4 linked regions of the Homo sapiens genome follow. The protein of the gene in region 3 interacts with the protein of the main gene of each other region in a pairwise test. Each region holds a gene or a part of one and is shown on either strand. Other genes may lie near its edges. The genes, in order: MCM10, RAD18, ORC2 and CTNNA3.

Region 1 (7,305 bases), on a different chromosome or scaffold from region 3:
GTCCATTATTATCTCTGCCCCATACTCAGGTGAGGAAGAAAGCATTTAAAAAATGGACACCTTGCTGCCAAAATGGCACGATGAACAGGATAACAAGTTTCTTGAAATATGAAATCTGTATCAGTACGATACTTGTACTCATAAAGATCAGCCATATCTTTCTGCAATGTCCGGGCTTCCGGTCTAGCCAAACTGGCTTGTAGGGAAAGCTTCTTTAATGCTGACCTTCCCTCATATTCCTCCGCTAATGCATTGACATCTCTAATATCCCACCCAGAGAGGAGTTCTCGCATCTGCTTGGCATGATCGGCAGACCTATCAGATTTTCGAGGCTTAATTAAGTTCTTTTTGAAGGTAGCAGGGCCAGAGGTCTTTTTTTTTTTTTTTTTTTTTTTTTTTTTTTGAGACAGTCTGGCTTTGTCGCCCAGGCTGGAGTGCAGTGGCTCGATCTCGGCTCACTGCAAGCTCTGCCTCCCAGGTTCCCGCCATTCTCCTGCCTCAGCCTCCCGAGTAGCTGGGACTACAGGCGCCCGCCACCACGCCCGGCTAATTTTTTGTATTTTTTAGTAGAGACAGGGTTTCACCATATTAGCCAGGATGGTCTCGATCTCCTGACGTCGTGATCCGCCCGTCTCGGCCTCCCAAAGTGCTGGGATTACAGGCGTGAGCCACCGTGCCCGGCCTCTTTTTTTTGTCTTGTGGTTTCTCATGGCCATGGTCAAGGCTATACAATTTTGATTCACAACCATAGCCTTGCTGAGAATAGGATGACGTCCCTATAAAAGTCTGTTGGGCCTGTGAATTTCCCCCTACCTTCGCGGAACATGGATGAGGATAATGAGATGCATTAGCACCCATTTTCTTCAGTCATTCAGGCATTCCGTCTGCGGGTTCTTCAGAGTATAATCCTAGAGGCCATTAGGAACCTTCAACCCTGGATCCAGCAGCCTCTTTCCATCTATTTCTATGAGAACAGGGCCATTAGACCTTACTTTAGTGCATACTATTGAAGTATGAAAGGCTGTGGGCAGCCAGACACACGGACAGTGCATTCTGTAAGAACCACACAGCAAGCATCCTCAAGTGTTTACTATACAGTCTGCCCTTCGTATTCCGTAGGTTCCTCATCCACAGTTCAATCGACCTGGAGGCTCCTCCCGCCGCCGCTGCTGCTGCTGCCGCAGGGACCTCGGCCGTCGCCCCCGCCGCCTCCGCCACCAGCACCGCGGCAGGCACCGGCGCCAGCACACCGCCGCCATCCTCCTCCCACCGCCGCCGCCGCCCTCTCCTCTCCTGTCAGTGGCTCAGGCTCCGGGACTGCTCCAGTTTTCCCTCGCCGCCATTTTGATTCCTAGAGGGAGCAGGAAGGGCTCGGCTTGGACTTTTTGTGTTTTTTTTTGTTTTTTGTTTTTTTGAGGCGGAGTTTTGCTCTTGTTGCCTAGGCTGGAGTGCAGTGGCCGATCTCGGCCCACTGCAACCTCCGTCTTCCGGGTTCAAGCGATTCTACTGCCTCAGCCTCCCGCGTAGCTGGGATTACAAGCATGCGCCAATACTTCCGGTTCATTTTTGCATTTTTTTTAGTAGAGATGAGGTTTCACCATGTTGGCCAGACTGGTCTCGAACTCCTGACCTCAGGTGATCTGCCAGCTTCGGCCTCCCAAAGTCCTGGGATTACAGACATGAGCCACCGTGCCCGGCCCACTTTTAATACATTAAAGGGGTCTGTGATAAACATCCTCCTACCGCCCAAAAAAGGTTAAGGACCACTGCAATATGGGCTGTTTGCTTTAGATTTCATTTTAGATAGATGTTGATAACTGTCAGAGCTGTTCTTTTTTGGCCTTCGTTTGTATTCTAAGGAGAGTCCAGGCCTCTCCTTAGAACCCCAGATCTGGAGATCAAGCTGGCTACCGTGCCTTTCTTAATCAGCATCTCTCATACATCTCATTCTGAAATAGAAAACTAAATCTATCTTCTCCCCTAAACCTGTTCCGTTCTTCCTATGTCTCCTACTTCAGTGCACAACCTCAAAAACGACCCTATTGTATAAATCAGAAACCTAACAGTCATCCTAAACCTGTCTCCCCATCCCCTCTCTGCTTCCTTCTCGCTAATATCTCCACATTCAATGGATGTTTTAAAAATATAAACTCAAGATTTTATTGTCTTCATAATAAAAGAAAACATGACACTTAGAACTGGATCACTTGGCCGTTTCTCTTCTTACCTCCTCCCAGTTCAAAATGCTAGCATATTTTAATAGCCAGCACTCTCTTAGAGCTGCAGCTGGGCTCAACGCACTCAAGCCTTGGCACAATTTTCTGTAGTTTTAGCCCTTTCCTGGAAAATCGGCTTAATTTGCCCACGATAGCCACTCTGCTTCCTGTCATAACGCCGCTTTCCCTGGGCATACAGAGAATCCTTCTCCTTCGTGTACAGTGTCACTTTGTGGGGTTGGTGCTTGCCACACTTCTTATAGAAAGTCTGGCGGGTTTTAGGAAACTTCGTAATGTTTGTGTGAGCGCTATCGGCACGGAAAAGCCACATTCAATGGATTTTAAAAAATCTATTTGCCTAATTGTTTCTCAAAATCACCTCCACTTCTTTTCTCAAAGTCACCACTATACTAATTCCAATAAAAAGTGCTTGATTCTTCACTTAAGGAAGGTTTGCGGGCTTAGGTTGGTTCTGTTTCTGACTCCTTGCCCGGAACTGGATGCAAAGAGGACCTGGAAAGTGAAGGTGAAGAAAAGAACTTCAGAGTACTGATCAGAATTAGTCAAGGAATTTCTGCATAATGGCTAAGAATAAATCTATGACGAATCTTTTTTTTTTAATAACTAGATGTAGTGATGCATTTATTTATTTATTTATTTATTTATTTATTTATTTATTTAGACAGAGTCTGGCTCTGTCGCCAGGCTGGAGTGCAGTGGCGAGATCTCGGCTCATCACTGCAATCGCCACCTCCCAGGTTCAAGCGATTCTCCGCCTCAGCCTCCCAAGTAGCTGGGATTACAGACGCGCACCACTACGCCCAGCTAATTTTTGTGTTGTGTGTGTTTTTAGTAGAGATGGGGTTTCACCATGTTGGCCAGGCTGGTCTCGAACTCCTAACCTCGTGATCCACCCACCTCGGCCTCCCAAAGTGCTGGGATTACAGGGGTGAGCCACCGTGCCCGGCCTTAGTGCCGTATGTTTAAAAGTACGCATTTAAACATACTTTTTCAATTTGATTACTAGAGTTCCTCCATTACTATGAATTTTTAACACTAGCAGCTCTCAGAAATGGTTGTATTCCTATTCCTGAGCCAATATAGGTTTAAGTAATAGGGCTGAGCTCATAAATGGAGCAGTAATATTCCATTAGGACACAGAAAAAAGTCAACGTAGATGGCATCAGGACTGTTTATCTTCAGTCTTCCTAAAGTCGATTTTAATTGTTCTGAAAATGAAAGTACGTAGTGGATAGAGATAGGATCTTATACCAAAGGGATTATTAGTGGGGGAACTGCAGTGCCTGAACAGTGTCTGCAAGGAGGAAAAGGGGGGAAAGACTTAAAGTGGCCATTTGGTCCATCAAAGTCTCTTCTGCTATCAATCCCTTGAAATTATGTAAAAGCTAAATGTTATTCTGCATTTAGAAACTATGTTCTTAGTATTATGTACAAACACTATTTTTTAGAATGTAAATACATAAAGAGGCCTGAATTTTACTGAAAAAAAAATCTGTGAAAGATATGGTCTGCTGATAAGTTCTCTTCAGCCCTGACGCCCCTTAGAAGTCCCAAAATCTATGGAACAGGAATTACTCGGGAAATGGTGGTTTCAGTGTAAAAGATGTCATCTACCCTTTCCCTCACTGCACAGATGGTGAAGGGGAAACTCAGAGAGATAAGTCACTTCCCCAAGGTCAGACAGGGTAAAAGTGGACCGGATCTGTTTGGTCCTGAGCCCAAACATTTCGAATGGACATAAGGCTGACAAAGGAACAGTCGGTCCCAGAGCGTCAGGAGTTGAGGTGGGATGGGACCGCAGGGAAAATACTGGGTGGGATGACTTAAACTTCCCGGCACCAGGGGGCGCCAGACACTCTATTTTACCTAAAGGAGACTGGCTTCTACCGACAGGAAGGTCCCTTGCCCCCAACAAAGAGGGCGTCCAATGACGTAAACCAATCCGATTGCTCTGTGCCAGGGCCGGGATTCGCTGGCGTAGCCAGTCAGTGCTGCCCCACAGCCGCGTGCGTCTGACGTCAAGGCAGGGGCGGGATCCGGTTGGAATTTTGGCGGGTTCAGCTGTGAACGAAGAAGGCGTCCCGGCATCGGGTGAGGAGCGCGGGCCCCGGGCGTGCGTGTGACCCTCGGGCGGCGGGGCCGGGGCCGCCTCGCACGTCTCTGCGCGGGTTGCAAGGGGTCCGAGGCTAGAGGCGCGGGGTCCCGGGAGCTCGGGTGGGCGCGATCTGGATTTGGCGGCAGCTTGGGACCGCTCGGAGCTGGCATGGCCGGGCCGGGGGCTGGGAGTTGCTGGCCGTCTACTAAGGAATCGGGTTCTTCCTTTTAAACGCAGCCTTTTAAGTGCTTGCCAAGTGCCTGCCGCCTGGGCTTTCTTTTATTCATTCATTCATTCATTCATTCATTGGTTTCTCGTATTCATGATTTGCCAATGATTATTGAATGCGGACGGTGTGCATGGCTCGGATCACATTTCCGCTGCCTTCACAGCGCTTACAGTTTAAAGGCACGAGCAGGTAGTAAACAAATGCACGACAGTGGACGACTCAGGGTGGTCCAGAAAGTCTCAGAAAGATGAGTAAGTGGAGACCGAAGGGCGAGAAGGACCTGGGGGGAGCTTTCTTCGACAGAGCCTGAGACCTCAAAGCAGCTTAGTGTGTTCCAGAAGGTGGAAGCGGGCTGGCCCGGCTGGAGCATCGTTATGGGTGTCGGGGTGGGTAGAATTGGACGTGGTGGATTGTGGAAAATGTGAGGGAGTAGAAAGCTTGGAAAGAGAGAGAGAATATGAATCATTGCCTCGCAGGCTTTGTAGATTTTTTCTAAGGGCAATGGAAAATCATTAAAGAATTTCAATGAAGGGACCCCCATGATCTGATTTATGTTCCTAAAGGTTACTAAGGAAAGGGAAGATTACCGTGGCTGTCGTATGCAGAACAGATTGCACGGGGACAAAGAGACCAACATAGAAAGCTAACACAGTCATTGGGTTAAAGGTTGACGGTGGCTTGGCCTAGGGTTCTGGCAGTGAAGTTGGAGAGAAGTGGCAGATTTGAGCAGTGTTTTGGAGATGGGACCACAGTACTTGTCAGTGGCCGTGGATTTGAGGGCGAGGGAGGGTGCACAGTTTCATTTTGGGGGAAGGCAAGGCCGGTTACAGACTTGAACGAGACAGTTTGCTCCTAACGCTCAGGAAGCTTACTGTCCAATAGGTTCCCCAGTAGATAGCACAGTGTGTGGCACATGAGGGATCCGTGGAAATGTTGGTTGAATGAATTTTTAAAAAGCGGCCAGGCGCGGTGGCTCACGCCTGTAATCCCAGCGCTTTGGGAGGCCAAGGCGGACGGATCACCAGGTCAGGAGATCGAGACCATCCTGGCTAATACGGTGAAACCCCATCTCTACTAAAAATACAAAAAATTAGCCGGGCGTGGTGGCGGGCGCCTGTAGTCCCAGCTACTCGGGAGGCTGAGGCAGGAGAATGGCGTGAACCCGGGAGGCGGAGCTTGCAGTGAGCCAAGATCGCCCCATTGCACTCCAGCCTGGGTGACAGAGACTCCGTCTCAAAAAAAAAAAAAAGCACCTTTGGGAGTCCAAGGCTGATGGATCACTTGACATCAGGAGTTCAAGACCAGCCTGGGCAACATGGCGAAACCCTGTCTCTACAAAAAACACAAAAATTAGCCGGGTGTGGTAGTGCACGTTTGTAATCCCAGCTACTTGGGAGGCTGGGGCAGGAGAATCACTGGAGCCTGGGAGGCGGAGGTTGTAGTGAGCCAATAGCACCACTGCACTCCAGCCCCAGCGACAGAGCGAGATCCTGTCTAAAAAAAGAAAAGAAAGTACCATAATCACTGTAATTAGTTCCTTGACATTGAACTTGCCAAAGAGCACATGTAAGTTAAATAAGAGCCTAGAAAAATGTATACTTTCTTACTTGCAGTTTAAAAAATAACCTTAAATGAAAAGAGAAGTGCACAAAGTGATACAACTTTGTCTTAATTAGCTACGCTGTTTCTCTGTGCTTTGCTGACTAGTATTGAATCAAAATCCTGATTGTCACTAAGGCTCCACCTAAGTAGAATCATACAGTAAGCTGTCGTGGATAACGCAGATGTCAGGTGTATTACAGTGAATAAAATGAAAGAATAGCCTAATGTAGATCGACCCCAATAATTTGTGTGTGTGTGTGTGTAATTTTTAAAAAAGACAAGGTCTTGCTATGTGACCAGGCTGGTCTCAAACTTCTGGCCTCAAGTGATGCGCCCACCTTAGCTTCCCAAAGTGCTGGTATTACAGGCGTTGAGCCACTGTACCTAGCCAACCCCAATAGTTCTTCCTCATAATTTATCTCATCCACGTAATCTAGTGTGATTTACAAACTGCTCTGCAGCTCAATAACTTTCTGTAACCTTAAACACAAGTAAAAGTGAGCTGCTACATCCAAGGAAGGAGATGGCATTGGCGGTGTGGAGAGAGGAGGTGAGAAATGGTCAGATTCTGGATGAATTCTGAGGTTAGAGCCCATAGGAGTGGTAGGATTCTGGGTTTGTTGGATGTGTGTTGTGAGAGAAAGAGAAGAATTGAAAGTGACATTTCTAATATTGCTTTCACACAGCCAAGATTCTACATTGCTCATCTGGGCATCTGAGCCTCCTTCGAAGTTTCCTGTCACAACTGTCCTCTTGACAGCATGGATGGTAAGACCTGGCAGTTTTCTGTTACTCTGTTTCAAGGAAAACTAACCTTTTGTCCATGGACTTGTTATTTATTCTACCTGTAAAATGGTGAAAATGCTCCCCAGCCCTCAGGTATTGTCTTAGTGGTTCTGAAGCAATCTCACATCTCACAGAGGTCACTGAATGTTACTTGCTTTTATCAGGGGAGATTTCTTCTGGCAACAGAGATTGTCTTTCATAATTACAATAGCTGGTAGGTGTACAGTGGGCCAGGCACTGCTCCAAGATCCTTGTGGAAATTAACTGATTCAGTCCTCAGGCAAACGTATTTTATAGGCAGAAAAACAGGGATGTTTAGTAACTTGTCACAGTTCAAGCTGGCATAGCAGGGCTTT
Region 2 (7,047 bases), on a different chromosome or scaffold from region 3:
CCCTAGGCTTAATTTCACTCTACTAGACTACTACCAAATATGTACTGGTAAGCTGCAGACCAGCATAATTTATTCTCTAGTGGGCAACTATGACAACCCTTCCATTCAAAGAAGAACAGCTGAAGAGTTTTGAATTCATGTATTCCCAGAGGGCTTCATTTAAATCACCTATGAAATTTGTCTTTCCATCCAAGAGAGCCCAAAAAAGATGTGTGGGCAGAGTGGAGGAAGGTACAATAACAACAATGAATTAAAGAGTAGTTTCACAGAAATATCCAAGCCTTGGGAGAGGGGGCATCTCTAATCCCAAGCAAGATCCTAGATAAAATAATTGGCTTGTGGACACTGATAAATTACCACTATTTTAAAGCTTGGCCAGCAATCTTTTTTTTTTTTCCTTTTGTGGATTTTGACTCAAAAAAAATTAATCAAAGCTTGTGTAGAAGTAAAAAGCAATTTTATTTCATTTTTTAAAACAAACTGAAATATGAAATGTTCCCCTTACGAAACCTTTGCTAATTCAAGAGACAACATAAGATTCTATTAGGCAAATAATAAACGTGTTTATCTTCTTTTATATTCTCATGAAGTAGCACTGTGAAACAAGGCAGAGGAGAAGAGAAATAGCTACACACACAAAAGGGAGATATAATTATGCAGAGCTGCACTTCTGGAAATTCTGAAATGCTAGTCTTTAGTTGGAGGGATGTTATTCTCTTACCAACTAACTGTCCCTTAACATTAGAACTGGAGGCAGATGCCAACCTTTTCAGCTTTCTTGGACCTCCTGTTCTTTTCACACTGGTTTTTGCTTTTAACTGGACACTTTAGATGTTTCTTTCTAAAAAGTTCCTTCTTTCATAAAGTCCTTAAGATTTCACATGACAAGGATTCATTTAAGTTTTAGAAATTTCCTTTTTACTATTAAGATGCTAGACTCTTTTGATGTTTGAAAGCCAGCCAATTGCTAAATATTTTGATCATCTTCCATTATGAAGTGAGAAAAATTATAGCAAGTGCAAAGAAAATTGGCACTTGGGCATATTAGTCTATTAGCAAGACCATTTCTCACTTAATGGTGTTTTATGGGTTGGAGTAAGTCTGCTCCCTCTCGCCCCCAAAATACTCTTTAATAGCACAAATTTGGATCAATTTAATTGACCTGCATTCTGCCAAGGCACCCCACTCACACCTTTGTACCTGCAGAACTACAAATGTAGTGTTTATTACTCATATCCAAAAACCTAAACAGAACAAAACAAAATAAAGTGATTTAAAAATGATAAATCATGAAAAATCTAAGAAGCAACAATAAATACCTAGGATTCTGGATCACCAATTCTAGTCAATCCAAGATGATACCAGAACATGACAGACCTGGCTTCCACTACAGCCCTGGGGGTTTTGTGTCATTAAAACACTAAAGACCCAGAGCAAATTTTAGACATGACGGGACTTGTGACAACTGGTGTTTAGTAGAAGAGGCCTACTGAATACTGAGACTTCACAAGTGAAAAAAAAGTGCTCATAAAATAAAAAATCATCATTACTGAAACTTCCCTCCACTGACTTCCTCTTAAAGAATGGCATAAGTGACAGCTATAAGTCATGAAGAAGTGAGCAAACAACATGTATCCCTAGGGAGAGAAACAGAAGACTAGCACTTACATTGCGGGGGCTACTTGAGAAACTGGTTTCTGAGCTGCCTGAATCTATACACTGACAGAAAAGGGAACCAGGTTGAGGGCCACTGAGAACAAAAGCAAAGGTCTGGACTAGTACCACACTCACTGGCCAGTGTGCCTCCCCCAGGCTCAGCAAGGAAGAGAAACCCCCAACTTTCTGCCTGGGGAGAGAAAGAAGGGAAACACGGTCCAATGTTCTAGCTTTTCCAAGAGCTGGCCAGAGGACTGGCTTCTGTCTCACCCCACTAAGCATGAACCCTGCATGTTCTAGGTGACTGGGGACTGCTAAGAATAAAAAAAAGCTGGGTTGCTTGCTACTGATCCACAGGACCCATAGAGCAGACAGAGGCTGATATAGCTCTGCGGCTTATCTTGGGAGGGGAGGCTGGGAGAGAATAGTGGAGTGTGTGACCAACATTTGAACTTTTCAAAGGACTGCCTAAGGGAATGGTTTCTGTCTCACTCAACTTGGGGTGCTTTGGATCAGCATACTTTAGATGCTTGAGGGCAGCTGAAAACAAAAAAAGAGGCTGATGGCTTACAGCAACTCTGGAGAACCTGCAATACCATGGACAGACACATGAGAGAGAAAAACAGCAGCTAATGAAAAAACTGACCAAATCTCTCGGCTTGGAAATTTATAATCACAAGTCCAGGGAAGACACATCCACAGAAAAGGCTTACGAAGCCCCTAGAATCTGCAGTCAAGCTGACTAGTAAAGATCTTTCTCTATATGGTAGTGCCCCCTTATACACAGGCGAGACATTCCATAAAGCGCAGTGGATGCCTAAAACCACAGGTAGTACTGAATCCTATTTATACTATGTTTTTTCCTATACATACTTACCTATGATAAAGTTTAATTTATTAATAAGACACAGTAAGAGATTAGGAACAATAACAATAACATAGAATTAAAACAATATACTATAACAAAAGTTATGTAAATGTGGTCTTTCTCTCAAAATATCTTGTGCTGTACTGTAGATGGTACTGTAGATCTTAGCAACCTCAGCATACAATTTTCTTTCCTTTCCTTGTTAAGAACTTTCACCTTTTCACTTAAAGGAAGCATTTTATGGTTTCTCTTTGTCATATCCGAATTGCCAGCATCATTACTCTTGTGCTTTGGGGCTACTATTAAGTAAAATAAGCGCTACTTGACACAATTACTGTGTTCTGCAACACAGTGACAATTACTGCCATGCTGCAACAGTCAATCTGGTAACCAGGATGGTCACTAAACGATTAACGGTAGATAGCATATGTAACATCAACACACTTGACAAAGGGATGATTCCCATCCTGGGCAGGACGGCACAAGATTTCATCAGTGCTTTACTTAGAACAGAGTGCAATTTAAAACTTATGAATTATTTATTTCCAGAATTTCCCATTTAGTATTTTCAGAATGCAGTTGACCACAGGTAACTGAAATCACAGATAAGGGGGGACTACAGTACAAAGCCAGTCTGTAACAAAGCCACTGTGAGGGAGTGAGGCCCTGTCTCCCAAACAAAACAAAACAAAAACAACGTTATTAGCTATGTCACAAAATAAAGGAAGAAAATCATATGAGCATCTCCATAACTGCAGAAAATACTTGACAAAATTCAACACCCATTCATGATTTAAAAAAAAAAATCCTCTCGCCTAACCAGGGGTAGAGAAGTGCCTCAACTTGGTAGGTTTATGAAAACATATTAAGAATATAAAAAAAACTTACAGCTAACATCATACTTAATGGTAAAAGACTGAATGCTTTCCCCAAAAAATTAAGAGTAAGGACAGGATGTCCCTCCACACCACTTTCAACACTGTAGTTGAGGTACCAGCCTGTGTAACAAAAAGAAACATAAAGGCATATAGATCAGAAAGGAATGAGTAAAACTGTCTTTATCCACAAATGACATGATTGTGTATGCAAAAATTTCTAAGGAATCAACAAAAAAGATGCTGGAATTAAAGTGAATTTACTGCAGTCAGAAGACGAAAGGTCAATATAAGTTATATTTCTTTGTGCAAGGTCTGTGCAATGAAAATCAAACAACACTGTTGAGAGAAATAAAGATAGAGAAGTGTATCATATTCATACACTGAAGACTCGGCATTGTTAAGATGTCAATTCTCCCAAATTGATCTCTAGATTCAATACAATTCCAGTGAACATCCCAGCAGGCTTTTGGTAGAAATTGACAACCTGATTTTAAGTTATACATGGAAATGCATTTAAAATGCAACGATCCTAAAAAAAACGAAGAAAAAAAAGTTGGAGGACTTACAATGCCTGACTTCAAGACTTACTACAAAGCCACAGTAATCAAGATAGTGTGGTACTGGCACAAGGATAGACATATATGAGTCTAGCATATAAGCATTTTAAAATATTGTACCTTGAGGTATTTACTGCAATAGGGGTTATCCTATCATTGTTCAGGAGTTAGACAAACAGTTTACAGATTATTTAGGTTCATGCTCTTTCCTGTTCTCTATTTTCAAGTTGATTTATCTTGGAAAGCTAAAGCAACAGTAAACTTAGGCCTAAACAATTGGTTTTAGTGGGCAGTAGTTTTGGTGAAAAACTACTAAGTTTCTAAGATCAATGGAATAGAAGAGTCCAGAAATAGACTACAGATGGCTAGCTGAGGTCATACTGACTGAGATGGGGAGAAATTTATCAGATAATGAAAATGTTCAGTATCTTAATTGCAGTAGTAACACAGCATACACATTTGTCAAAATTCATGAACACTTTTATACCTTAATGTGCACTTAAAATGGATGTATTTTATTGTATGTAAATTACACCCAAATAAAGATGATGTTAAAATATATTTTAAAACAATCTCCAAAACTTATCTTGGTTTTTAATGTGAATCTTGTCTGGAAGAAAACTAACATTGTTAAGGACTCATAATGTGCCGGACAGTGAGTTCTGCACATTTAATTCTCACAAACATTTTCTAAAGTAGTAAATTCTCACCCGATTTTCAAGAGTCAAGCCCAAGGGCATCTGCAATGCCCGTGCTGCCGTCACTGCTACCCTCTTACTATGTCTTCTCCACAGAAACTTTTCCACCAAAGCTACTACCAACTAAAACCAATTTCTTAGGCCTAAGTTGACTGTTTTTAACTTTCCAAGATAAATCAACTTGAAAATAGAGGACAAGAAAGATCATGAACCTGAATAACCCATAAACTGTATGTCTAGCTCCTCAACAATGATAGGGTAACCCCTATGCACTAAATATCTTAAGGTACGATATTTTTAAATGCTTATATACTAGACTCTTAAAGAGAAGTACAAACAAATTCCAACATGAGTCTTTCCAGCGTCACATAGCAGTTAAGGTATAAAACTGTCTGTAATAAAGTCAGTGGTAGAATTCTCCCACTGGGGCAATATTCTTATTGTTACAGATTTTTAAACTTTGAAATTCTATATCAAGTACTACTTGGTGGAACCACCTATCTGTTATCCTGTTAAAAACAAAAATTCTGAAACTTAACGTCAAAAAACACTTGGCAAATAAAGAACCACTTATTGTGACCAAAAATTTTACTGCCATAAATGCTATAAGAATCATAAAAATATCAAAGAGGAACGAGGTAGAAAATATAGAAGCCTTGTAAAAACCTTCAATATTCAAGAGGAAGGCAGTGAAAAAGACCTTCTGAAAAACTACAAGATAGAAGAGCTAAAGGTGAAACATAAATATGTGCACATATCTTTGGTGTTAAATTAACACTACCTCATGTAAAAATCGCAATTTACTAACTCACAGGAACAAAACATACTTACAGTTATGTGAACACTGAGGTATTATCATTGCAATGTTGAAATACTCGAAGCAAATTCCACACCGCAGCAAATCATCTATTGTCTGAAATGCAAATATGCATATATACATATCAGAAAGACATCAAAATTGGAAGTCCTGTCACAAAACTTTTTCTCTATCCCCTAAAAAAAAAATCAAACTCTTTGTCAAATACACAAATTCAAAAGCTAACTCCAGATAAACTGCAAGGGATCTTGACAAATAAATAAAAACTTCTCTCATATGACTCTTATACATTCAGTCTCAGGTTGCCCAAATTGCTTTAGACAGCTAAAGATGATGGCACACCGATTCTTGTGCCATATTGTCATCCCTTCACATAAGGGCTACTGTACTTCTGTTCCACTTCTAATGCGCTTCCAGCTCTTACTCCAAGCCTCCTCCTCTTCAGACTCCAACACCTAGCCTATAGTCACTATTGGGTGAAAGGTGGCCATTGCCACCACACAAGTTAAGAATCAAATCAAAGAATGTTAAAGCCAAACTCCAGAAACTGTCTAGTCAAAAGAGGAAACTGGTATCAAAAGCAGGCACACAATAGTAGGCATCAGTCAAGCCAAGACCAAAATTCCTGTCTCCCGTCTGGCAGTCCAGTGCTTTCGGCATGGTACTACACATGCAGCCAAATGAGGAAGCCTGGAAAGAGCTGGGGCAGTGAAAGCAGAGGAAGGGAAAGTGGACAACTTGGAAAGAGAGATGTGTGCCAACCTGGAATGCAATCCAAACAGGAACGGAACTACTCTGGCAACCTAAAATCTTTCAAATTGTTTAAAATAAAATATTATTCCATTCAACAGAAATATTTTTTAAAAGGAGGAAGCTCTCGACGGGAGGATCGCTTGAGTCCAGGAGGCGTAGGTTGCAGTGAGCCCACATCGCACCACTATACTCCAGCCTGCATGACCGAGTGAAACTGTCTCAAAAAAAAAAAAAAAAAAGAGGAAGCTCTCCATCATACTGATATGAAAAGATTGCCAAGATAAGTGAAAAAAGGAAATAAGGTATAGACAGTACATATACTATGCTACGGTTTGTTTAAAAGGAAGAGGTGAGTAAGAATGTATTCTAATAGGCCTAGCATGGTGGCTCTGTAATCCTAGCACTTTGGGAGGCCAAGGCAGGAGAACTGCTTGAGTCCAGGAGTTTGAGACCAGCCTGGCAAAATAACAAAAATCCATGTCTATAAAAAATTTAAAAATTCGTTGGGAGTAGTGGCGCATGCCTGTAGTCCCAGCTACTCAGGAGGCTGAGGCGGAAGGATTGCTTTAGCCCAGGAGTTCAAGGCTGCAGTGAGCCGTGATTGCCACTGCATTCCAGTCTGGGCGACAGTGAGACCCTATCTCAAAAAAGAAAAAAAGGAAAAAAGAATGCATTCTATTTTCATTGTAAATGTAAATAATGAGAAGATAAACAAGAAGTCATAAATAATGATCAGGGCCAGGAACATGGTAAGAAGGAGACTTTTACTTTTTATTTTATGTGTATTTTGAACCATGTGAACCTATTACCTGAATTTTAA
Region 3 (3,184 bases):
GGCAGGAAGGTGAAGAATGATCTAAAGCACAATGAAAAAAATAAATACCCACCTACCCACCCTCTAGTTAGTTGTCTTTTCCACTATAAGGATGTTTAACTATAACTCCATATATTTAAGTATATATGACTGTGTGCCCTTTTGCCTTTTTATACTTATATATTTAAAAATTACATCCAAGAAATAAATTCATTTTTTCTTTAGCCTCTACAATAGAAGAGTTCATATACCTCTTATGAATGACTAACGTACAGGTATTCTTAAATCTTTCAGGGAACTGATGGAGTAGAGTATTTATTAATTCCTGTTGATAATGGAACATTGACTGATTTCTTGGAAAAGGAAGAAGAGGAGGCTTGAAGCTTTCCTTTATTCTTGAATCTCCCATGGAAGGGTTGTACCCCAGCTGCCACTCCTCTAGTTGAAAGTGTTGTGTTTACATCTGACATTAAATTATTTTTCCAGCATACAAGATTTAAATTTGGGAAGGGGGGGATGTCCTCAATTAGAACTTTTTGATCAGCCTGGCTGGTACCGTCTAGTACTATGCAGCGGTCCTCAAGTTGGAGAAAATGTGCCTTTCATTCATTACCTCTCTGGAGACTTCTTGCTGGAATGAACAGTGTGCTCAGGGACTATTTGGAACTGGATGTTTTTGAATTATTTTATACTTAGAGATATTCTGAATTTTTTGAGGGCCTTTTAACACTCCCCGAGCTGATTGTTTGCAAGTGTGTTTGTTCCAGAGTGTGGAAGTATAAAGACATGGGCATCACGTAAATTGGTTTTGTTTGCTATTCTGTGTGTCAGAACCAACGAGTGTAATGGAGAGGGCAGGTCATCTCTTATTGTTTCTAAAACAACTTAAAAGGTGTAGATTGGGAAGAGGTGAGTGATCCAGCTTTCTCCTTTTGGATTGAGGCTATGTACTTGGTGGGGGCAGGGGAGGGAATATATTATAATACTATTCAGTTGGGATAATGGGAAAAACAGAGTATATAGGGTATCTACCCAGCCTAGAAAGCACAGGAACAATACGTCATATATTTGGAACAGTTATTGTCTGTGCCATGACCTTCATGATACCAGTGAGAAGCCAGGCTAGAGAAATAAAATCCTGAATTACATTTTAGTAATTGTTTTCAAGACAACAAAAAATAAAACATTTCATTATTCTTGTATATTGACATATTTTTCTTTTCTTGAACAACATGCAGGTGAGTAGCATATTAATGGCTGGCTGTAAATTAATTTTGATTCCTCTGTCAAGTAGACCTAAAACTCACTGTAAGATATTTCAGTTTTTTCCTTAAAGTGATGATTTCAAACCTCCTGAATATTTGCGCGAGACTTTTTTCTTAGGAAAGAAAAAAGGCTCACCTTGGCTACTGTTGTCAGCTTACAGTCATCACATACCCCCTGAAATATTTGACACTTGGAAATGAAGTTCTTCCTGAAAATATCACTGCAATAAAATACGTACTACGTCAGCATTTCTCACTCATTTCTTATCTTGTAAACCTCTTTCATGAAAATATTTCCAAAAATCCTTGGAATTTTTAAATAATTTTTCTTGTGGCATATAATTAAGTAATTTTGGCCAGGCATAATGGCTTATGCCTGTAATCACAACACTTTGGGAGGCCAAGGCAGGAGGATCTCTGGAGCCCAGGAGTTTAAGAACAGCCTGGGCAACATAGTGAGACCTTGTCTCTACAAAAAATTTAAAAAATCATCCGGGCATGGTGGCCCATGCCTATAGTCCTAGCTGCTGTGGAGGCTGAGGCAGGAGGATCGCTTGAGCCCAGGGGTTCAAGATTACAGTGAGCTATGATTGTGCCACTGCACTTCAGTCTGGGTGCAGAGCAAGACCTTGTCTTTTTTTTTTTTTAAATCATTTTTTTAAAAAGTAATTTTATGTTAAGTCCATGGGCTTAGTCTTTTTTTTTTTTTTTTTTTTTTTAGATGGAATTGCACTGTCATCCAGTCTAGAGTGCAGTGGCGTGATCTAAGCTTACAGCAGCCTCCACCTCCTGGGTTCAAGTGATTCTTGTGCCTCAGCCTCCTGAGCTGGGACTACAGGCACACGCCACCACGCCTGGCTAGTTTTTGAATTTTTAGCAGAGATGGGGTTTCACCATGTTGGCCAGGCTGGTCTCGAATTCCTGACCTCAAGTGATCCTGCCTCGGCCTCCCAAAGTACTGGGATCAGGGGTGAGCCACTATGCCTGGCCAAGGGCTTAGTCTTAAATATAACCTCTAGTCAAAATGTTTAAACAAATTTGTACATAAATGTGATTTAAAAAAATTTTTTTAATAGTACCAAAGGATATTCAGTGAAAGTGAGTTTCCTGCCCACTCCCTGATCCACCCAGTTCTTTAGGCAACCACTGATAGCATTTTCTTAAGTATTCTTCCAGATATCGTCTATGCATATGTAAAAGTATCTGTCTTTCTCCTTTTAAAAACACAATTGGTAATATATCATACTTGCTGGTTTGCACCTTGCTTTTTTTGCTTAATATATCTAGTTTATAATGACCTAATGTGCAAATTTTTGCATCTGCCCTAAATATCTACTGGTTTATTTTTATAATTTTTGTGTCTATACTATTTGCAAGCAGTATGTGTCAGTAGACTTTATTATTAATAAATAAAAAGCCAATTTGGATAGAATCACTTTATAAATTGGTAGTGCTGGTTTTTTACTAAAAATATTTTTAAGTTCTTCAAAAGAAGTTTTATGAGTGCATCTTACAGATCTGGTGAAGATCTTGGCACATTATTGTATGCTGTTTGTTGACTTGTGTCCGCATCGGTGTCCCTGAGGCTCTAGCAATTATGTCTTGACTGATAAGGCTCTAATTTCTTCTACTGTGTTAACTTGCTTCTGGCAAGATTGAACAGATCTACTGAAACCTTGAAAGGTTTTCTGGGTACTCTTAATAAAATTGCAAAAAAAAAAAAAAAAAAAGGCACAGGAGATGTCAAACATTTATTGTTTATAAATTTGCCACAGTGCTGAATTTATTGTGCAAGGACTGCTAAATTAGTTCTCACAGTAGTCCAGAAACTGGACTTTCTTAGCATTGTTTGTTATTTTAATACATGATCACTTCACTCATATAAAAGATCAGTGGAGGCCGGGCGTGGTGGCTCACGCCTGTAATCCCAGCACTTTGGG
Region 4 (7,948 bases), on a different chromosome or scaffold from region 3:
TCGTTTCTTTTTATGCTTTCTTCTCTAAACTTCCCTTCTCCCTTCATTTCATTCATTTCATCTTCCATCACTGATACACTTTCTTCCAGTTGATCGCATTGGCTCCTGAGGCTTCTGCGTTCTTCACGTAGTTCTCGAGCCTTGGCTTTCAGCTCCATCAGCTCCTTTAAGCACTTCTCTGTATTGGTTATTCTAGTTATATATTCGTCTAAATTTTTTTCAAAGTTTTCAACTTCTTTGCCTTTGGTTTGAATTTCCTCCTGTAGTTCGCAGTAGTTTGATCGTCTGAAGCCTTCTTCTCTCAACTCGTCAAAGTCATTCTCCGTCCAGCTTTGTTCCGTTGCTGGTGAGGAGCTGCGTTCCTTTGGAGGAGGAGAGGCGCTCTGCTTTTTAGAGTTTCCAGTTTTTCTGCTCTGTTTTTTCCCCATCTTTGTGGTTTTATCTACTTTTGGTGTTTGATGATGGTGATGTACAGATGGGTTTTTGGTGTGGATGTCCTTTCTGTTTGTTAGTTTTCCTTCTAACATTCAGGACCCTCAGCTGCAGGTCTGTTGGAGTTTGCTAGAGGTCCACTCCAGACCCTGTTTGCTGGATATCAGCAGCGGAGATTGCAAAACAGCGGATTTTCGTGAACCGTGAATGCTGCTGTCTGATCGTTCCTCTGCAAGTTTTGTCTCAGAGGAGTACCTGGCCGTGTGAGGTGTCAGTCTGCCCCTACTGGGGGGTGCCTCCCAGTTAGGCTGCTCGGGGGTCAAGGGGTCAGGGACCCACTTGAGGAGGCAGTCTGCCCATTCTCAGATCTGCAGCTGCGTGCTGGGAGAACCACTGCTCTCTTCAAAGCTGTCAGACAGGTACACTTAAGTCTGCAGAGGTTACTGCTGTCTTTTTGTTTGTCTGTGCCCTGCCCCCAGAGGTGGAGCCTACAGAGGCAGGCAGGCCTCCTTGAGCTGTGGTGGGCTCCACCCATTTCGAGCTTCCTGGCTGCTTTGTTTACCTAAGCAAGCCTGGGCAATGGCGGGCGCCCCTCCCCCAGCCTCGCTGCTGCCTTGCAGTTTGATCTCAGACTGCTGTGCTAGCAATCAGTGAGACTCTGTGGGCATAGGACCCTCCAAAGCATGTGCGGGATATAATCTCCTGGTGCGCTGTCTTTTAAGCCCATCGGAAAAGCGCAGTATTAGGGTGGGAGTGACCCGATTTTCCAGGTGCCGTCTGTCACCCCTTTCTTTGACTAGGAAAGGGAACTCCCCGACCCGTTGTTCTTTCCGAGTGAGGCAGTGGCTTGCCCGACTTCGGCTCGCGAACGGTGCACTGCACCCACTGTCCTGCGCCCACTGTCTGGCACTCCCTAGTGAGATGAACCTGGTACCTCAGATGGAAATGCAGAAATCACCCGTCTTCTGCGTCGCTCATGCTGGGAGCTGTAGACCGGAGCTGTTCCTATTCAGCCATCTTGGCTCCACCTTCTCTTTTCTTAACTGCTTCTTAGTAATCCCTGAGTGAAATGTCTATCCTCAAATACTGGAAATTCCTTAGCGTGTACCTGGGTGGCTTCATTGTCTTTCATTTTGAGCCATAGTCACCAATTATTGGCAACAGGAGAAGTCCCACTCAATATCCTATGTCATTTAAAGATCTCATTTGAAGCCATAGGTTAGGATGTGTTATCCCCTCAGGTGACAGAATGGTTTGGCCACCTGGAGGTTGTTGATAGACTTAAAAATGACCCTTTTGGGAGTGAAGGGGAAATAAATCATCTTAGTGGGTTGTGAAGTGAGAGGTAAAAACATAGGGGTGGTGGACAACTCATTTGGGAAGTATTATGATGAAGGCACAGAGAACTAAGTAGCAACCACAGGGAGTTGTAGGGTAAAAGTATGTTTTGTTTGTTTGAAAATTTTCAGGTAGAAGTCCTGTGGCATATTTTTGCACTGATCATTGGAGAAAGGGTGATAATGCAGTGTGTGAGGTGATCGTGAAGGAGCAGAGTCCTTGAAAAGGTGAGGGAAGAAGGGATCCAGCACACAAGAGAGATTAGCCTTTGGTAAGAGCAAGAGGACTTCTTGCATTTTAATAGGAGGGAGGGTAGAGAAGATGAGGCTCGGTGTTAGTGGGTTTATAGATTTGATGATGGAAAGATGTGAAACATCTTCCAGATGGCTTCTGTTCTTCTTAGTGAGGCAGGAGAGTTGGTTAGCTGCTAATAATAAGGATGGTTGGGAAGGGAGAGTGAGAAACATTTTTTTTTTTTGTATTAATAGTACATAAGACCTTCAAATCAGGGGCAGATTCATTTAGATTCACCTAAAATACCTGACAAGGTGCCAGAAGTATTTATCACATATTTTTGAAAAAAATGGTTTTAATTATCACAAACAGGGATTATTCCTAGCTTTAAATCTCATTTTAGAAAGGTATTATGGCTGTTCAGAAAATTACATATTTTTAAAGCCCGAACCTGAAATTGCCAGTATTTTGAGATATTATGGACAGATGAAATGGACTCATGGTTCATGCAAAAGTGATTTTCATTCTATAAGGGATTTTATTGACAAGAAGAAACTACTCCATTCTGACTAAAGAACATATTGCACCCTGGAGGATTTATTTTCCAAGAGAGGCTACTGACAGGGATAGAATTATCTTCTTTTTGGAGGCCTCCCTTCTCTCCTGTAATCTTCTAGCTGGCGCCTAACACAGGGCTCTGCATCAAGGGGCTTCTCAATACATCCAATTGAATGACTTTGTTTGGGGCCGGTCCTGATGCCCAGAACGAAAAAACTTACTTTTGATTACCTCGGGAGAATTGCTAGTAATGGCCCTGATTTATTCTCTCTCTTTTTTCTCTCTTTTTTTTTTCCCCAGCTCTTCTACCCTCAATGTTTGATTGCTTGCAAGAGGCATGTGAGCCAAAATTTTAAAGTTTGCAAAGTATAAAGAAAGGAAACAAGTAAATAGGGAAGGAGAATAAATACTGAACAAGACTGGGCAAGGTGACAAGAAAGAACTACTGTGAAAATCTGGAAGAGGGCCAGGATGCAAAATGCAGGGGCTGTGTAGTTTACAGGAACTATTTAGCCTCCAGCATGCCTCAGCGATCACACAGAGAAAGGCAGATTTCTCTGCTTTTGTCTCCTACCCTATAGTTAGCTATGGAAATTTGACATAGGTGATATATGTTTTCTGTCAGCAAACTGATACAAATACAGAGGACCATGGGGCCTGTGATCAACAAATCCAACGTGATTTGAATTGCTAGGAGGGGACCTCTTGTGGCTATAGTGGGAAATACTTCAGCTAAATACTACCTTGGAGGCTGCAGATATTTTTATGAAGGAATTAAAAAAAAACCCACTATAAAAGCTCTTTAAAATTACATTTCAGATATTTATAATATTTAATTGTTTTGATAACACCAAATTCTGTAAGAAGGTTTTATCTGTATTGCATCTCTGAAGAGTTCAGTGTAATTTAAAGCTCTTCAGCTTTTATCCATTTAATTCACATATCCTCTGAAAAGCAAATGAAAAGAATAAGAGTTCTCATCTACATTTTGTAGGTGGAAAGGAGAGGTACAGGGCAGGTAAGTAACTTATTGTGGTTTCACAGCAGGACAAGCTAGGCTTATGATAGAATTTGGATATCTCATCTTGGGCTCAATTCAACAGTCCTGGTTTGGAAAACATTCATTATTAAAGCTCTAAAACAAAACCTGCTATTTTGCAAGTGTCAAGTGATTTCTTTATTCAAGAAAAGATGGATTGAGAGACATAAAACTTACTCTTTGTTTCACTGTGAAAAGATGCTATTCCTAGATTCTCCAGGGGGAAAAAGCTGCTTTAAAAAAATCTGGGGAGGATAGCATGTTAGCAACTAAGAATCTTTAGATAAATATATTGTCAATTATGCCCATTTTAAAGGTAGCTACATAAAAATACAGTTGTTTTGAAGGCTATCCTGAAAATCATATAAAATGAACTCCTTTCATAGTTGATTCTCTGACAGTTCCCAGACCCTGCCTTTCCTCTTGGCTCCCTGAAATTTGTGCTAAGAGTATCTGGAGAGCCAATAAATAAATGCTTTCTTTTTATTTTGAATTCAGCCTTTTAAGAACAGGACTGCCAAAACTCAAACAAGTAGTTCATATTTTAGTTAGCACCTCTTGTTTTAGAAGCTATTAGAAGAAAGTCGGAAAAATGGTAATGTCCAAGGAAATGCCACAGAAGTTCGAGTGGGATGTCAAGGAATTGATGAAATGATAAAGATTGTTTCAGTGGATGTGAAGATATTGAGGGAGAAGATATCAAAAAAAAGGGAAAAGGAAATGTGAAAAAGAATAGTCATAGAGAGAAAAAATAAATTTTGGTGGAGAAGACTTTTTTTTTTGGTGGCTTAAATTTAATAATGGGTTAACCTATTGAGTTTTTGGTAAATCTTCAGTTTAGATTCTTTACTGATAATGATGTGGTTCCTCATAAATACTGGAAGGAGAGAGTGTGATGCTTGGTACAAGGGATGAGACAGGTAATATTTCAGAAGAAGAAAAATACGATCTCAGATGTGACACATGGCCTTGATGCCATCATCTCTAGGGTTCTGAAGACATTGAATTTTACATAATTGATCTTTTGATGTGAGGATTTCCTGGACTCTTGTTTTCCCTGCTTTATCATTTTTCACTTTCAATAATTCCAGCCTTTGGCTTTAATTAGATAGAAGAGGTTCTTCTTTTGGAAAGGAACTAGAGAAATGCAAATCTAAACTTATTCAGAGCTATGTTTGTAGGTCTCTAGGCAAAGTATGTGTCTGGCCTTTTTCAACGAAGTATTTTCAGTAACAAGTTGTCAGTGAGGTCAGTGACTAGCGGTTCAGGATTAGATACCACCCACCCTGGCTTGTAACCTCCCCTTTCTTTCTTATCCTGGGTGAACAACGCTCAGCGAAATTGACTGCCCCACTGTCATCTGCCTCTCAATTTGGTACTCTGTAACTCTGTGACCACCAAGAAGCCTTTTTCCGTCCCCCACAAAGCTCTTTTTGGAAAATTCCCTACGGGAGCTGAATTTTAAGCCCATTTACTTTATAGGAAGAAACAGAAAGGTAAGAATCAAGTTTGTAAAGAGAAGAGCTGAACTTCAGCGAATTCTCATTTCTGCATTGAATTCCTGTGTCTTAGTTATAATCATAGGTTTAAAATTTGGGGTTTTCTTCTGAACTGAGGAAGATCACATTATTGTATGAAATAGGAATGTTTTGACTAGTTATGAGAAACGTAGGCTTTCACGCTAATTTTAAAGTTATAAATAACTTTCGAACTATTGCCAGGGGAAGCTGGTAGCCAAGGTCGTGCTTTGCATTCAGAGAGTTTCTGGCTATAAAAAGCCGATTGGATACTGTGCAGGAAAAGATAAGATATGGCCTGGATGCTTGTGCTTTGGCATGGGAGTGGGGAAAAGGAAGCAAAGATGGAATATGTTTGAAGGGATTTTACTTTCAACCAAAAGCTAATTCATAGTAAATGGAAGATGTTTCAAGTGAGATAATGGCAAAAAGCATTAATTTCTGAATTTAATGTCTATTTGTTTTATAATTGGAAGGAATATTAAGAGGTTGAGGAATGCTCTCAGAACTGTTTGATGACCAGTTATAGTCAAATGAAAATCACTGTATGGAATGATCATGAGATGTAATGATCAATCATGTAAAGAAAAGGTCACTATCTAATGGGATCTGAATGATTGTGAGCAGCTGCTGTCAGTTACACGGAAGACAAATAAAAGAAATGAGTTCAAATGGAAACAAGAAGAAATTGGGGTTAGACATCAGAAAGTTCATTTACTGTAGAGGTTTTGAGTCACTGATATGTGCCTACTAAGATCTCTGGAGATAACGTGAGAATGCAATGATTTGCTTAAAACAAAGTGGAAAAAGCAGGATTTCAAGTTTGCATTGGTTCTGGGTTTGTGGCTAGCTTTTTAGACAGATTGAAAGCTCAACATATTGAGAATAGTTGTGATTTGAAGATTCAGATTATCCATGGTCAGATTTGAATGGCATATTTGAGTGTGCTATTAAAATTTCATTGTCCATTATAAAAAATTATCTCAGTAGAACCATAGGACAAGTTTGTTAAATGGAGAAACCTAAAATACAGACAGTATAGACAAAGTTATTCCCATTTGTTACCTCCTACACATAGTCTAAATCTTCCTATTTGAGTAAAGATTGGTAAAACTTTTTTTCATTATAAAAGCATTAAATGTTCATCGTAGGAATTTTGAAAGCACAGAAAAATATTTCCTGTAATTTCATTGATGTGTTTCCTTCTAGTCTTTTTTTTTCTAGATGGCTTTAAAAATAATTGCAATAATAGTATAGATAAAATTTGGAACCTTGCTTTTTCATTTAACCATATACCAAAACATTTTCCACAGAATATTACCTATTCTACAGTGGTGTTATTTTAAATTTGTGTAACATTTGTTCAAGTGAATGAATATAATTTTATTAATCATTGCTGAACATCTAGATGCTATGGTAAACATCTTTGTGTATTTATTTACTTATGTGTATATGTATGTTGTAGATATGTTTAAGATAATTTCCTTAATCTCTGTTTCTAACTGTAGAAGTGTTGGATTAGAGAACACTATGTTTGAAGGTAAAAGTTGTGATATTTAAGATGTGTTTTTACTGTTATTCTTTTAAAGCATTGTAAAATTCCTAGTCTACCAAATGATATATTTATTGTCTATGATGTGCAAAACATTGTTATCAGGCACATAGATACCAAAATACTTAGTGTTTAGAAGGATGGAATCTCTCCTACCTACAAAATTTCCACTCAATAAACTTTTACAGATATCAACAAAGCTACATGTCAGAGTTGAAAATACTTCAGCTCTGCCTGAAACCGATAGATAGTATTGTTGATCACTTACGTTACTTTGCACATGAAAATAACAGAATGTATAAGTAACTTTATTAGAAGACCATGTAGACATAGTGATTTATATGACTTTTATGATACAACTGTGACAAAGAAATAGGAATAGGAAGAATAAATTCTTTACTTATTGTGAATCTTTGGAGAAATTAGAAGTATTTGGAGAAAATCTGTAGGCAACAGACTAGAAAGAAAAGGGATAGAGGGCACATGCTAGAGGAGCAATTCAGTATTGGGTTTTTCTATAGGGAAAACATGAGAATGGAATTAGGCGTGGCTATGGTAGGAGTCAGAGAAGATAAGTTTTAATTCTGTCATTGTTGAGTTTGAGAACCATGTTGTGTAAATAGAGTAGAAGGAAGAAAGCTAAGGAATTAGTGATAAATACAACTAATTATTGGAAGTGGTTACTGGTCCCAAGTAATCAAAGTGGAGAGATTAGAGATATCAATATTATGTGGTGTGAAGTGAGAGGTAGAGTTATGAATTATCAAATAATATATTCTTCCTGTATTAAAAAACTTTTTAAATTGTGAAGTTTTTATTATTCAGTAATAATATTTAGAGAAAAACCATAGCTACAGAAGGATGGGAGTTTCATTCTCTATTCCCCATGAACTTCTGTTTGCATGTTTCTATTTTTTTTGGAATAGAAGGGATTAAGATTTAAGAAGAGAAGTTGGCAACCCAAACTGGCCTGAAGAGAAATTATGCGCTTTGTAATGAAAACTTGAAAATAGTGTTTATTTATGGATCATTGGCTCATGGGAATGCTAGTCTAGAGATTTAAAAAGTGTGATTTTCTGATTCTTGTTTGGATACTGGATTTTAAGTGAGATGGTACAGCGGGGTGGAACTCCGGAGTTTAGCAAAGTTGCAAATCTAATGGAAAGTGACAGATAATTGAGGCTGCAGAATTTTTGAAGGTGAACAGGACTGTTAGCCGATACATCTGATTTTTCACATGCTTAAATACTGTTTTTAACCACATTATTTTTGCCTGGG

What was found.
Region 1: the proteins of ORC2 (region 3) and MCM10 interact in binary tests that used the Homo sapiens proteins (3 or more experiments, as listed by UniProt).
Region 2: the proteins of ORC2 (region 3) and RAD18 interact in binary tests that used the Homo sapiens proteins (3 or more experiments, as listed by UniProt).
Region 4: the proteins of ORC2 (region 3) and CTNNA3 interact in binary tests that used the Homo sapiens proteins (3 or more experiments, as listed by UniProt).

What each region holds. Positions count from the first base shown.
Region 1 is NC_000010.11:13,157,279-13,164,583, forward strand, and holds the start of MCM10 (protein MCM10 homolog), read left to right. Parts: upstream 1-4,279; 5' UTR 4,280-4,328; exon of another isoform or gene 4,329-4,947; intron 4,948-6,849; 5' UTR 6,850-6,924; coding exon 6,925-6,931; intron 6,932-7,305. UniProt on the Homo sapiens protein: Acts as a replication initiation factor that brings together the MCM2-7 helicase and the DNA polymerase alpha/primase complex in order to initiate DNA replication. Additionally, plays a role in preventing DNA damage during replication.
Region 2 is NC_000003.12:8,953,432-8,960,478, forward strand, and holds part of RAD18 (E3 ubiquitin-protein ligase RAD18), read right to left. Parts: intron 5,571-7,047; coding exon 5,489-5,570; intron 1-5,488. UniProt on the Homo sapiens protein: E3 ubiquitin-protein ligase involved in postreplication repair of UV-damaged DNA. Postreplication repair functions in gap-filling of a daughter strand on replication of damaged DNA.
Region 3 is NC_000002.12:200,908,477-200,911,660, reverse strand, and holds the end of ORC2 (origin recognition complex subunit 2), read left to right. Parts: intron 1-273; coding exon 274-360; 3' UTR 361-2,684; downstream 2,685-3,184. UniProt on the Homo sapiens protein: Component of the origin recognition complex (ORC) that binds origins of replication. DNA-binding is ATP-dependent. The specific DNA sequences that define origins of replication have not been identified yet.
Region 4 is NC_000010.11:67,693,149-67,701,096, reverse strand, and holds the start of CTNNA3 (catenin alpha-3), read left to right. Parts: upstream 1-4,901; 5' UTR 4,902-5,097; intron 5,098-7,948. UniProt on the Homo sapiens protein: May be involved in formation of stretch-resistant cell-cell adhesion complexes.